Linked DNA regions of Homo sapiens. The protein of the gene in region 1 interacts with the protein of each later gene in a pairwise test. Each region holds a gene or a part of one and is shown in the gene's direction. Other genes may lie near its edges.

The links.
Region 2: the proteins of TNFRSF10B (region 1) and ASPH interact in binary tests that used the Homo sapiens proteins (3 or more experiments, as listed by UniProt).

What each region holds. Positions count from the first base shown.
Region 1 is NC_000008.11:23,019,633-23,024,067, reverse strand, and holds the end of TNFRSF10B (tumor necrosis factor receptor superfamily member 10B isoform 1 precursor), read left to right. Parts: intron 1-1,083; coding exon 1,084-1,397; 3' UTR 1,398-3,935; downstream 3,936-4,435. UniProt on the Homo sapiens protein: Receptor for the cytotoxic ligand TNFSF10/TRAIL. The adapter molecule FADD recruits caspase-8 to the activated receptor.
Region 2 is NC_000008.11:61,501,593-61,508,628, reverse strand, and holds part of ASPH (aspartyl/asparaginyl beta-hydroxylase), read left to right. Parts: intron 1-5,119; coding exon 5,120-5,270; 3' UTR 5,271-7,036.

The sequences.
Region 1 (4,435 bases):
TGTGCTATAGACCATCTGGACCCTAAACTGTCTTCTCCCATCTCTTCTCCCCACTCTACCTCATCCTCTCTGCACCCTATCATTGACCCTAATGACTCTGTCCGTCCCCTCATCCTCTCTCCTCCTTTGTTCAGGGCCTGATGTAGCCCCCGCCTGCCCCTGAGGACCTCCTGAGGGGCTGGCCTGTCCTGCACAGCACCACTAACCCCAGTGGGCTAAGGAGCTCTTGACCTGTGCCTCAGCCCAATTTGCAGAGCTGTTGTGTAAACTACATACGAATGCCAAAGACTTAATGCAAAAAAGAGTGGAAAATATTTCACTCATAATTTTTGTATATTGATTGTATATTAAATTATATTTTAAATATATTCAGTACCATACATTAAAATGAATGTCACTTGTTTCTGATGTTCTTTAAAATAAGGCTGTTGGAAAACATAGCCTCGTGTTCCTGACCCTGTCTATCTCTGAGGACGGCGAGGTGCATCATGTTGCACACACGTCTCATTTAATCCCTCATCGTCCCGAGATCTGGGCAGCATTGCTCGGTCTTTGGGTTCACTTCTTGCTCAGAGTCTGTTTGCCTCCACCTAGCTCTGCCCCAGCCCCAGGAAGTGAGGCCGAGCTGGGTGAAAACAGAGGTCCCCTGTCCCAGGCCCTGTGCTTTCCACAGATGCAGAAGTGGCCGCCCTGGGACCTGCTCCCATGACAAGCGCAGCCCAGGCAGCCTCCTCCCTCCTCTAAGCTCCCGCTGCAGCCACTGTCTCTCCCTCCCTCGGACTCTCACGCACTTTACTTTCTGCCTCTGTAACGTCCATCCATACTCCCCTGGTGGGTTCTCAGCCCTGTATGAGGGCTGATTCTCTGACGACTTTGACTCCCCGCAGTGCCTTGCGTGTGGGGGAGGCCAGGCAGTGTGGGCGCGCTCTCTGTGGATGGGAAGCGGGTGGGCACTGGAGCGGCAGGTTTGCCCGCACACGGGGCTCTCCAGGTTCCCCGCCTTGGGTTCTGGGCCTGATGTGGAATCCTCTGCCCTTTCTGAGTCCCAACTCACCTGGCTGTCTCTGTGGCTTTCTCCACCAGCTCTGAGACAGTGCTTCGATGACTTTGCAGACTTGGTGCCCTTTGACTCCTGGGAGCCGCTCATGAGGAAGTTGGGCCTCATGGACAATGAGATAAAGGTGGCTAAAGCTGAGGCAGCGGGCCACAGGGACACCTTGTACACGATGCTGATAAAGTGGGTCAACAAAACCGGGCGAGATGCCTCTGTCCACACCCTGCTGGATGCCTTGGAGACGCTGGGAGAGAGACTTGCCAAGCAGAAGATTGAGGACCACTTGTTGAGCTCTGGAAAGTTCATGTATCTAGAAGGTAATGCAGACTCTGCCATGTCCTAAGTGTGATTCTCTTCAGGAAGTCAGACCTTCCCTGGTTTACCTTTTTTCTGGAAAAAGCCCAACTGGACTCCAGTCAGTAGGAAAGTGCCACAATTGTCACATGACCGGTACTGGAAGAAACTCTCCCATCCAACATCACCCAGTGGATGGAACATCCTGTAACTTTTCACTGCACTTGGCATTATTTTTATAAGCTGAATGTGATAATAAGGACACTATGGAAATGTCTGGATCATTCCGTTTGTGCGTACTTTGAGATTTGGTTTGGGATGTCATTGTTTTCACAGCACTTTTTTATCCTAATGTAAATGCTTTATTTATTTATTTGGGCTACATTGTAAGATCCATCTACACAGTCGTTGTCCGACTTCACTTGATACTATATGATATGAACCTTTTTTGGGTGGGGGGTGCGGGGCAGTTCACTCTGTCTCCCAGGCTGGAGTGCAATGGTGCAATCTTGGCTCACTATAGCCTTGACCTCTCAGGCTCAAGCGATTCTCCCACCTCAGCCATCCAAATAGCTGGGACCACAGGTGTGCACCACCACGCCCGGCTAATTTTTTGTATTTTGTCTAGATATAGGGGCTCTCTATGTTGCTCAGGGTGGTCTCGAATTCCTGGACTCAAGCAGTCTGCCCACCTCAGACTCCCAAAGCGGTGGAATTAGAGGCGTGAGCCCCCATGCTTGGCCTTACCTTTCTACTTTTATAATTCTGTATGTTATTATTTTATGAACATGAAGAAACTTTAGTAAATGTACTTGTTTACATAGTTATGTGAATAGATTAGATAAACATAAAAGGAGGAGACATACAATGGGGGAAGAAGAAGAAGTCCCCTGTAAGATGTCACTGTCTGGGTTCCAGCCCTCCCTCAGATGTACTTTGGCTTCAATGATTGGCAACTTCTACAGGGGCCAGTCTTTTGAACTGGACAACCTTACAAGTATATGAGTATTATTTATAGGTAGTTGTTTACATATGAGTCGGGACCAAAGAGAACTGGATCCACGTGAAGTCCTGTGTGTGGCTGGTCCCTACCTGGGCAGTCTCATTTGCACCCATAGCCCCCATCTATGGACAGGCTGGGACAGAGGCAGATGGGTTAGATCACACATAACAATAGGGTCTATGTCATATCCCAAGTGAACTTGAGCCCTGTTTGGGCTCAGGAGATAGAAGACAAAATCTGTCTCCCACGTCTGCCATGGCATCAAGGGGGAAGAGTAGATGGTGCTTGAGAATGGTGTGAAATGGTTGCCATCTCAGGAGTAGATGGCCCGGCTCACTTCTGGTTATCTGTCACCCTGAGCCCATGAGCTGCCTTTTAGGGTACAGATTGCCTACTTGAGGACCTTGGCCGCTCTGTAAGCATCTGACTCATCTCAGAAATGTCAATTCTTAAACACTGTGGCAACAGGACCTAGAATGGCTGACGCATTAAGGTTTTCTTCTTGTGTCCTGTTCTATTATTGTTTTAAGACCTCAGTAACCATTTCAGCCTCTTTCCAGCAAACCCTTCTCCATAGTATTTCAGTCATGGAAGGATCATTTATGCAGGTAGTCATTCCAGGAGTTTTTGGTCTTTTCTGTCTCAAGGCATTGTGTGTTTTGTTCCGGGACTGGTTTGGGTGGGACAAAGTTAGAATTGCCTGAAGATCACACATTCAGACTGTTGTGTCTGTGGAGTTTTAGGAGTGGGGGGTGACCTTTCTGGTCTTTGCACTTCCATCCTCTCCCACTTCCATCTGGCATCCCACGCGTTGTCCCCTGCACTTCTGGAAGGCACAGGGTGCTGCTGCCTCCTGGTCTTTGCCTTTGCTGGGCCTTCTGTGCAGGACGCTCAGCCTCAGGGCTCAGAAGGTGCCAGTCCGGTCCCAGGTCCCTTGTCCCTTCCACAGAGGCCTTCCTAGAAGATGCATCTAGAGTGTCAGCCTTATCAGTGTTTAAGATTTTTCTTTTATTTTTAATTTTTTTGAGACAGAATCTCACTCTCTCGCCCAGGCTGGAGTGCAACGGTACGATCTTGGCTCAGTGCAACCTCCGCCTCCTGGGTTCAAGCGATTCTCGTGCCTCAGCCTCCGGAGTAGCTGGGATTGCAGGCACCCGCCACCACGCCTGGCTAATTTTTGTATTTTTAGTAGAGACGGGGTTTCACCATGTTGGTCAGGCTGGTCTCGAACTCCTGACCTCAGGTGATCCACCTTGGCCTCCGAAAGTGCTGGGATTACAGGCGTGAGCCACCAGCCAGGCCAAGCTATTCTTTTAAAGTAAGCTTCCTGACGACATGAAATAATTGGGGGTTTTGTTGTTTAGTTACATTAGGCTTTGCTATATCCCCAGGCCAAATAGCATGTGACACAGGACAGCCATAGTATAGTGTGTCACTCGTGGTTGGTGTCCTTTCATGCTTCTGCCCTGTCAAAGGTCCCTATTTGAAATGTGTTATAATACAAACAAGGAAGCACATTGTGTACAAAATACTTATGTATTTATGAATCCATGACCAAATTAAATATGAAACCTTATATAAAAAGAGGTGTGGTTTTTGTCTCCCGCCCCCCAACCTCCCCTCCTCCTGTGAATCAGCTCTGAGTGACAGGAAACCAGGGCTGTGCTCCTGCTGGGACTCCTTCCTTCCTCCCTCCCCTCTGTTTTCAGGCTTGGCCTCCTGGGGGTGTTTCCTGAATCCGACTCCCCAGAGTTTAAAGAGCTAGGTTCCTGGGGACTGGGATTCATACCTCCTTCCCCTCTCTCTCCTGCCTGCTCCTCCCTCTGGGGACAGGGACACCAATGTTGGCCTGGCTCACCCACAGCCTCCCAGGAGAGTTCTCTGGGCTGCCGGGTTGCATCTGGTTCCGACAGCTCTCGGGGAATGGGCGGTGGGTCCCTGAAGTTGGGGGGCCGGCCCTGTTTCTCAGGGAATCCCGTGGTCACTCTCCTATGGCTTCCTACAGCCCTGGGTCGACCTTCACTTTCTCTGCCCCGGCCTTCCCTGCATCCCCACCAGGGTACCCAGGTTGCTCAGCGCTTCAG
Region 2 (7,036 bases), about 38 Mb from region 1:
GTCCTTTGCCTATCTCAGAACATTTTAGCAAAGATAGCTAAGATATTATCTATAAAATTTGTAGGTAGAAGACTCTATAAGCACCTAGTATCATTACTTAGCCTTATTAATATCAATGGTAATTCTGTGACCAAATTATAGTTATTAAATATGCACTGCCACCATTTTATCATTATCATTATTTATAATTATAATAATTTGAGAAGTTGACAGATTATGGAATACTGTTTTATCTTAGGACGAGATATTCTTATATCTTTTGACAACCCAGAGAGAGACTTTCTTCTCTTAGTGGTAAGAAATTCTAACAGAAGGCCAGGAACAGTGGCTCACACCTGTAATCCCAACTCTTTGAGAGGCCAAAGCAGGAGAATTGTTTGAGCCCAGGAGTTGGAGAGCAGCCTGGGCAACATGGGGAAACCCCATCTCTACAAAAAAATCCAAAAATTAGCTGGATGTGGTGGCACATACCTGTAGTCCTAGGTACTCGGGAGACTGAGGTGGGAGGATCACCTGAGCCTGGGAGGCGGAGGCTGCATTGAGCTGTGATGGTGCCACCACACTCCAGCCTGGGTGACAGAGCAAATCCTGTCTTGAAAAAAATAAAGGGTTAGGTGGGAGGAGAGAAAGAGAGAGAGGAAGGGAAGGAGGAAGTTCCAACAGTGAGCCAAGCTTCCAGGGATGGAGAGCAGTGCCCACCCCCAATGCTGCTTCTCTGGGTCCTTAGACAAGGCTGTAACAGTACTTCCAGGCAGACCTCTGTCACAGGCCGCTCTGAAGATTGTTTCTCCAAAGGGCTGATTGTATGTCGTAATTCGAGTGTAACTTAATCTTATTTGATGGAGCTTTGTTCACAAAGCAAGTGGCCTGAAAACTAGTTCTTTGCATTCTAATGAGAGTCTTTGGTTTTCAGTCAGAAGCGATTTGACATCTTTATGCTCCTCTCCCTTTGTTGTGGAAAAAAAACATCCTTTCCCAAGCATGTGATACATCTCGAATTTAACCTGGAGTCACTTAAGTCTGGACATGGCTTGTAGGATGTTTTATTGTTCTTCATTTTCCCCTTTTAGGTGAATCGTGACTACAGTTTTAGTCATTCTATCTCTAATAACTGATTGAAAGACACCATTTTTTTAAGAATTCAGAAGAAATCTACATTAAAAAATCTACATTATGTTATTGACTATCTTTGCTATTTTCTGGGGAAATGTATGAAAGAAAGTGGAAGGGCAAATAAGTCCGACAGCACTCACTTTCCCCATAGAGTTTTATGACCCTGAAACAGGCCAATTAACAACCCTTTGGTATACCTCCCCAAATTTCTTATTTATACAATTGGTTAATTAATGGTTTACACTGATCTGTATTGTACTTAATGTATCTGGAAAGCTGCAAGCCTGTGGTTCTTAAGTTCTACTTTTATATGCACTGATGTTCCATGAGTGACCAGCGTGTTCCGGTGCTAATAACTTTTCCCAGTTCTCAGGAATTTAATTTAATGAATGGAATGCTTAAGGCCTTTTTCCCAGAAAACAATTCTAGATCTTTGGCTTTGTTATACGTATCATAATCTAGTGAAAAATGTCATTTTGTGTGGGCTAGAATTTTCTATTCAGTTATTTTAATTACTTCTAGTGTTTTAAGTAGTTTCCAGGTTCTCTGCCACCCAAAAAACTTTGAAAATCACTTGTCATTGCTGTACAAACTACATTTCACAGATGCTCTGAAGATGTTTTTATATCTCATCTCCCTTGGAAGTTTTTAGTTGTCTCAAAGGAAGGCAGACAACATCATAAAGAGTGATGCATATGTCATTTTTGATAACATACCACTTCCCAACATTTCACCTCTGTCTTTTATCTTTTCCCTATTTTTCTTTATATTTTCATTTTTCTGTCATTAATTGAATATCTACTATTGCCAATCATATGCTAATCCTCACATCAATTATGCCGATGAAGACACAAAGAATCAATTATGCTAAGTAGCTCACCTTAGGTCCCATAAGTAATAAATGCCAAGGTCAAGAGGATTCCCCTCAAAGACCATAAATTTCCATCTTCCTGTATTGCTTCTTTCTTTCTCCTCTACCACATGCTCTCCTTTGCCTTTCCCTTTTTTCTCTATTTAATTGTAGTAAAATACACATAACAAAATTTACCATATTATCCATTTTTAGGTGTGCAGTTTAGTGACATTAAGTACATCCATATTGTATAACCATCAACATGATCTATCCTCAAAACTCTTTCTAACTTGCAAAACTGAAACTATACCCATTAAATAACTCCCATTCCCGTCCTCCCACCGGCCACTGGCAACCACTCTTCTCCTTTCTCTCTCTGTGAATTTAACTACTAGTCTAGGACCTCAGATGTGTAGAATCAACTAGTAATTATCTTTTTGTGTCTGGCTTATTTTACTTGACATAATGTCCTCTGAGTTCATACATGTTGTAGCATGTGTCAAAATTTCCTTCCTTTTTAAGGCTGAATTAATATTCCATTGTATGTGTATACCACATTTTGTTTGTCTGTTCATTCACTGATAGATACGTGGGTGGCTCTCACCTTCTAGCTGTTGTGAATAGTGCTGCTGTGAACATAGGTGCACTGCCTTTCATTTTGAGTACACTTCCTCCCTCATCTTCTACATAAATTATAGGCTCGTTTGTGGTACCCACTGACATTGCTTAATCCCGGTGACAACACTGAGACCTAGAAAATGCCTGCCTAACTGTGGAAGCTGTGGACTGTTTCACTGATTTTTCTTGTCAGCGTATTTCCCCGCCTTGGTTTTGCCTTTCTTCTCAAGTTAGATTTTGCATGGTAATGAATGCATATTCTGTCATTTTCTCCTAAGTCCATAGATTTCTGTCTTTTGCTACCCTTGATGGAACTCCAATGGAACTCTAAAAACCTTCAGAGGAGTTGTAGAAGAGCCAATCAACATGTGTGTGTTGAATGCAAGAGATGAGGCAAGGTGTATTAGTCCGTTTTCATGCAGCTGATAAAGACATACCTGAGACTGAGAAGAAAAAGAAGTTTAATTGCACTTACAGTTCCACATGGCTGGGGAGGACTCAGAATCATGGTGGGAGGCAAAAGGCACTTCTTTTTTTTTTTTTTTTTTTTTGAGATGGAGTCTTGCTCTGTCACTCAGTCTGGAGCACAGTGGCATGATCTCAGCTCACTGCAACCTCTGCCTCCCAGGTTCAAGCAATTTCCTGCCTCAGCCTCCTGAGTAGCTGGGATTACAGGCATGCGCTACCACGCCTGGCTAATTTTTGTATTTTTAGTGGAGATGGGGGTTTCACCATGTTGGCCAGGCTGGCCTCGAACCCCTGACCTTGTGATCCACTGTCCTCAGCCTCCCAAAGTGCTGAGATTACAGGCGTGAGCCACCGCATCCAGCTGAAAGGCACTTCTTACCTGGTGGCGGCAAGAGAAAATAAGGAAGATGCAAAAGCGGGAACCCCTGATGAAACCATCAGATCTCATGATACTTATTCACTATGATGAGGACAGTATGGGGGAAGCTGCCCCCATGATTCAAATTATCTCTCATCGGGTCCTTCCCACAGCATGTGGGAATTATGGGAGTACAATTCAAGATGAGATTTGGGTGGGGACACATCCAAACCATATCACGAAGTGTATGAGATAGCACACTGGGTGGAGGTGGGAGGGTGGGTAGTAGAAGTAGAGGTTCAGTTCCCAACTTCAGTGAACTTTCAACTTGCAAATACTCAGTACTTTATCTGTTAGTTTACATAACTTGGAAATTTTATTATCAGACTTATTCAGTATGTCAGTTATTTTCCACTGGAATGATTTTTGCTCCTGCTCCCACCCTGGACATTTGGCAATGACTAGAGATGTTTCTGGTTGTCACAACTATGGCAAAAACTACAATTACTTTTGCACCAACCTCATGGTATAGGGAATGCTACTGCCATACAGTGGGTGGAGGTCAGGGGTGCCGCTAAATATCTCATAGTGCATGGAACAGCCCCTACAACAGAGAATGATCCAGCCTAGATGTCAGTAGTACCACGGTTGTGAAGCCCTGCAATATATGTAGTATTGCTCAGTTTATATTAGTTAATCACCTGATATGGAACATAAAAATTCACCACTAGTTTTCGCACAGAAAACCTCTTTATGATAATATAGTAACTTGAAATCAAGCTAGCATTTCCCATGCTATAATAGTCATTATTTGCTAATCCAGGATGTAAAATTTTGAAGGCTTAAGTGGCATTTTAGTATCTAAGGAAAATTTTCTAGCAAAAATTTTATTTTAAAAACATAACTTGGTATTTAATATATTGGCAGTTAATATCTATTTTTAAAATAAGGAACCATCAGTGTCCCTCATAAACTCTCTTTGGATTTGAAAAGCATTGTGTTACTGCCTCCTGTATGTTTCTCTCTTAATAGACTAACACTATATTTAGATCGCAGTCCCTATACAGATATCTTATGAGGTAAAGTTGGAAGCTCTATAGGGTGTTTTGCAGCATTGATTTAAAATATCCCATGGATAACCCACTTGCATAGAAGATGATACTAAAAATATAAACAAAATTTATTCCCAATCTGCCCATTTTCTTCAGCTGGAATACTAGCTAGGAAACTCCTAATTTAGTTTTCTGCTTTATGGTACTGTGTTTAAGCAGATTCCTTTCTTCCATAAAATGAAACTTGAACAAGTGGAGTGAGCTGAAAAGACAATTGATTGGAAGTGTCTTGAGAGGCATAGAGATGCCTGAGACCCAGTCACTGCCCATATGTCTAAACCAGAATAATTGCAAGACATGTAATAATATACAGAATAATTGCAAGGCATGTAATGAGACCAATATGTCTTCATCACAAATCCTCTGTTGTTTGTACATCTCCAGCACTGAGCAATGAAAACTGATGTTCATAGCAAGATTTCTGAAATTCTTTCCTAATCATCAAGGGAAGAATAAACTTGGGCTTGATGTTCTAGTTATTTGGTTATGTCCCAAAGGTTGTTACCAAAGGTAGTTCTCGCACATGGACAGGAATCGATCCTCAGACATCTGAACCACACAAAACTATATTCAGGAATCCTTGTCTTTCTGCTGCAGGACCTGGGAGGAAGGCAAGGTGCTCATCTTTGATGACTCCTTTGAGCACGAGGTATGGCAGGATGCCTCATCTTTCCGGCTGATATTCATCGTGGATGTGTGGCATCCGGAACTGACACCACAGCAGAGACGCAGCCTTCCAGCAATTTAGCATGAATTCATGCAAGCTTGGGAAACTCTGGAGAGAGGCTGCCTTTCTGGTTCCATCTCCTTGGGTGTGAGGATAGAATTTCGAACACCAAGAGTCAATTCCCTTGACTTGCAGCCCGAGTAATTCAAAGCCTCCTCCTAGGGTCAGAAGACACTAAAGGGAATATTTGCCTCGCTGCAATTCATTTAGGAAACACCCTGCTGTGTGTCATCTCATGACAGCACTGGTCTTCTGCCAGTATTTAAGGTGAACATTTGATAGCTTCTACCTTACCAGCCAAAGATATTTTTTCCACATAGAATAGGTCTAATTCAATGTATAATGAGAACATATGTAGAAACTGTGAATGGATTGCTTTAGTTTGTAATTTTTCTATGCAGTTATATTTTTCTAGTGTAGCTAGACTATTTTGTCATCATGTACCACTACATTTTTGTTTATTTTAATGACAAGCTGTATAAATGCTTTACTTCTAGCTATTTAATGGTAGCATTACTGGGGAACTCAGACTTCCCTCTTTTAATTCTTCTTAGTAAAAGATACTCATGAAAAAAGCAGTTTTATTTTCCTAACAAAAAAGAAAGAGCTCATTATGTCAGTGTCTATGAACTGTACCCATCCCAACTCTCAAATCGTTTGGTTTTTTTTATCTTGATTGAGATCCTCTTCTCACTATGCTAGTGGTGGAGATATTGACAAAATCCTATTTCTTTCAAAGAGGAACTTTTCACACCGAAAAAAGAGCATGGAATTATTTTATATTGTTATAAAAATCCCAGATGCAAATTTTTTTAATGCCAATTATTAGAGCTTCTGGGGAAAAAGTATAGTTCACGGAAATAAAACTATGTTCTTTCAGGGTTGGGTGGATAGGTGGCTGCTAGGGTGTCTGGCTCCTGGCGGCTTTGCCATCCATGAGGCAAGGGCTGGGAACACAGTGTCTTTGCCTATGGTAGATCCATGTGAATGTCAGGAAGCCAGCTCTTCAGTCTTGGAGATGATTTCTGCTACAATTCTGTAGAAAGATTAAGGATGGCAGAGTAAAAGGTTACCAAGAATGCCAGGATGTTTTTCTTGGGCGTAGGAGGTCCAGATTACTTTCCTTTTTGATGAAAGAGTTTGGAAGACTGTCCCATCTCTCTGGCTTGAGAAATCTCTGCCATTTTAAACATCACTGTGAAATAGCAATTATTATCATCTGTATTTAGTTTTAACATTACCCACAACATAGAAATAATAGGTAAAAATCGTCTTGCCTACTCATTCCAAAGATGATCAAGTCATTAATCTAGCAAAGTATTCATGTATCAGATTTTGTATATTTTGAATCAAAGCTAACTAGGAATGTTAGATATAAGAATGTAATGATATTCATGCACTGAATTCTAAGCCAATATGAACAAAAATGCTGCATGAATGGCACATATAGGTCACCAAAGTTCATTCACAGGTAGAAAAAACTTGTGCTTTCTTTTCCATCTAAAAACAAAAGGAGACTTTCTTTATCTCATTTAAAGAACAGCTCTTTGAAATTGAAATTGACCCTTTTTGCTTGACCTTAAGGAGATTAGCTTCCAGTAGATGAGTTTGCAAAATACTTTTCCTGTTCTTTTGTTTTGCTGGTATTGAAAACATCCCACTAAATCAGATGAAGAGGCATGGGAGGAAAAATATCCAAATTAATTACTAAAATCGAGAAGAGAAGGCAAACTCTTGAAAAGTAAAAAGGTGTTTGTGACCTTCAGTATTTATTGAACAGAGGAAAT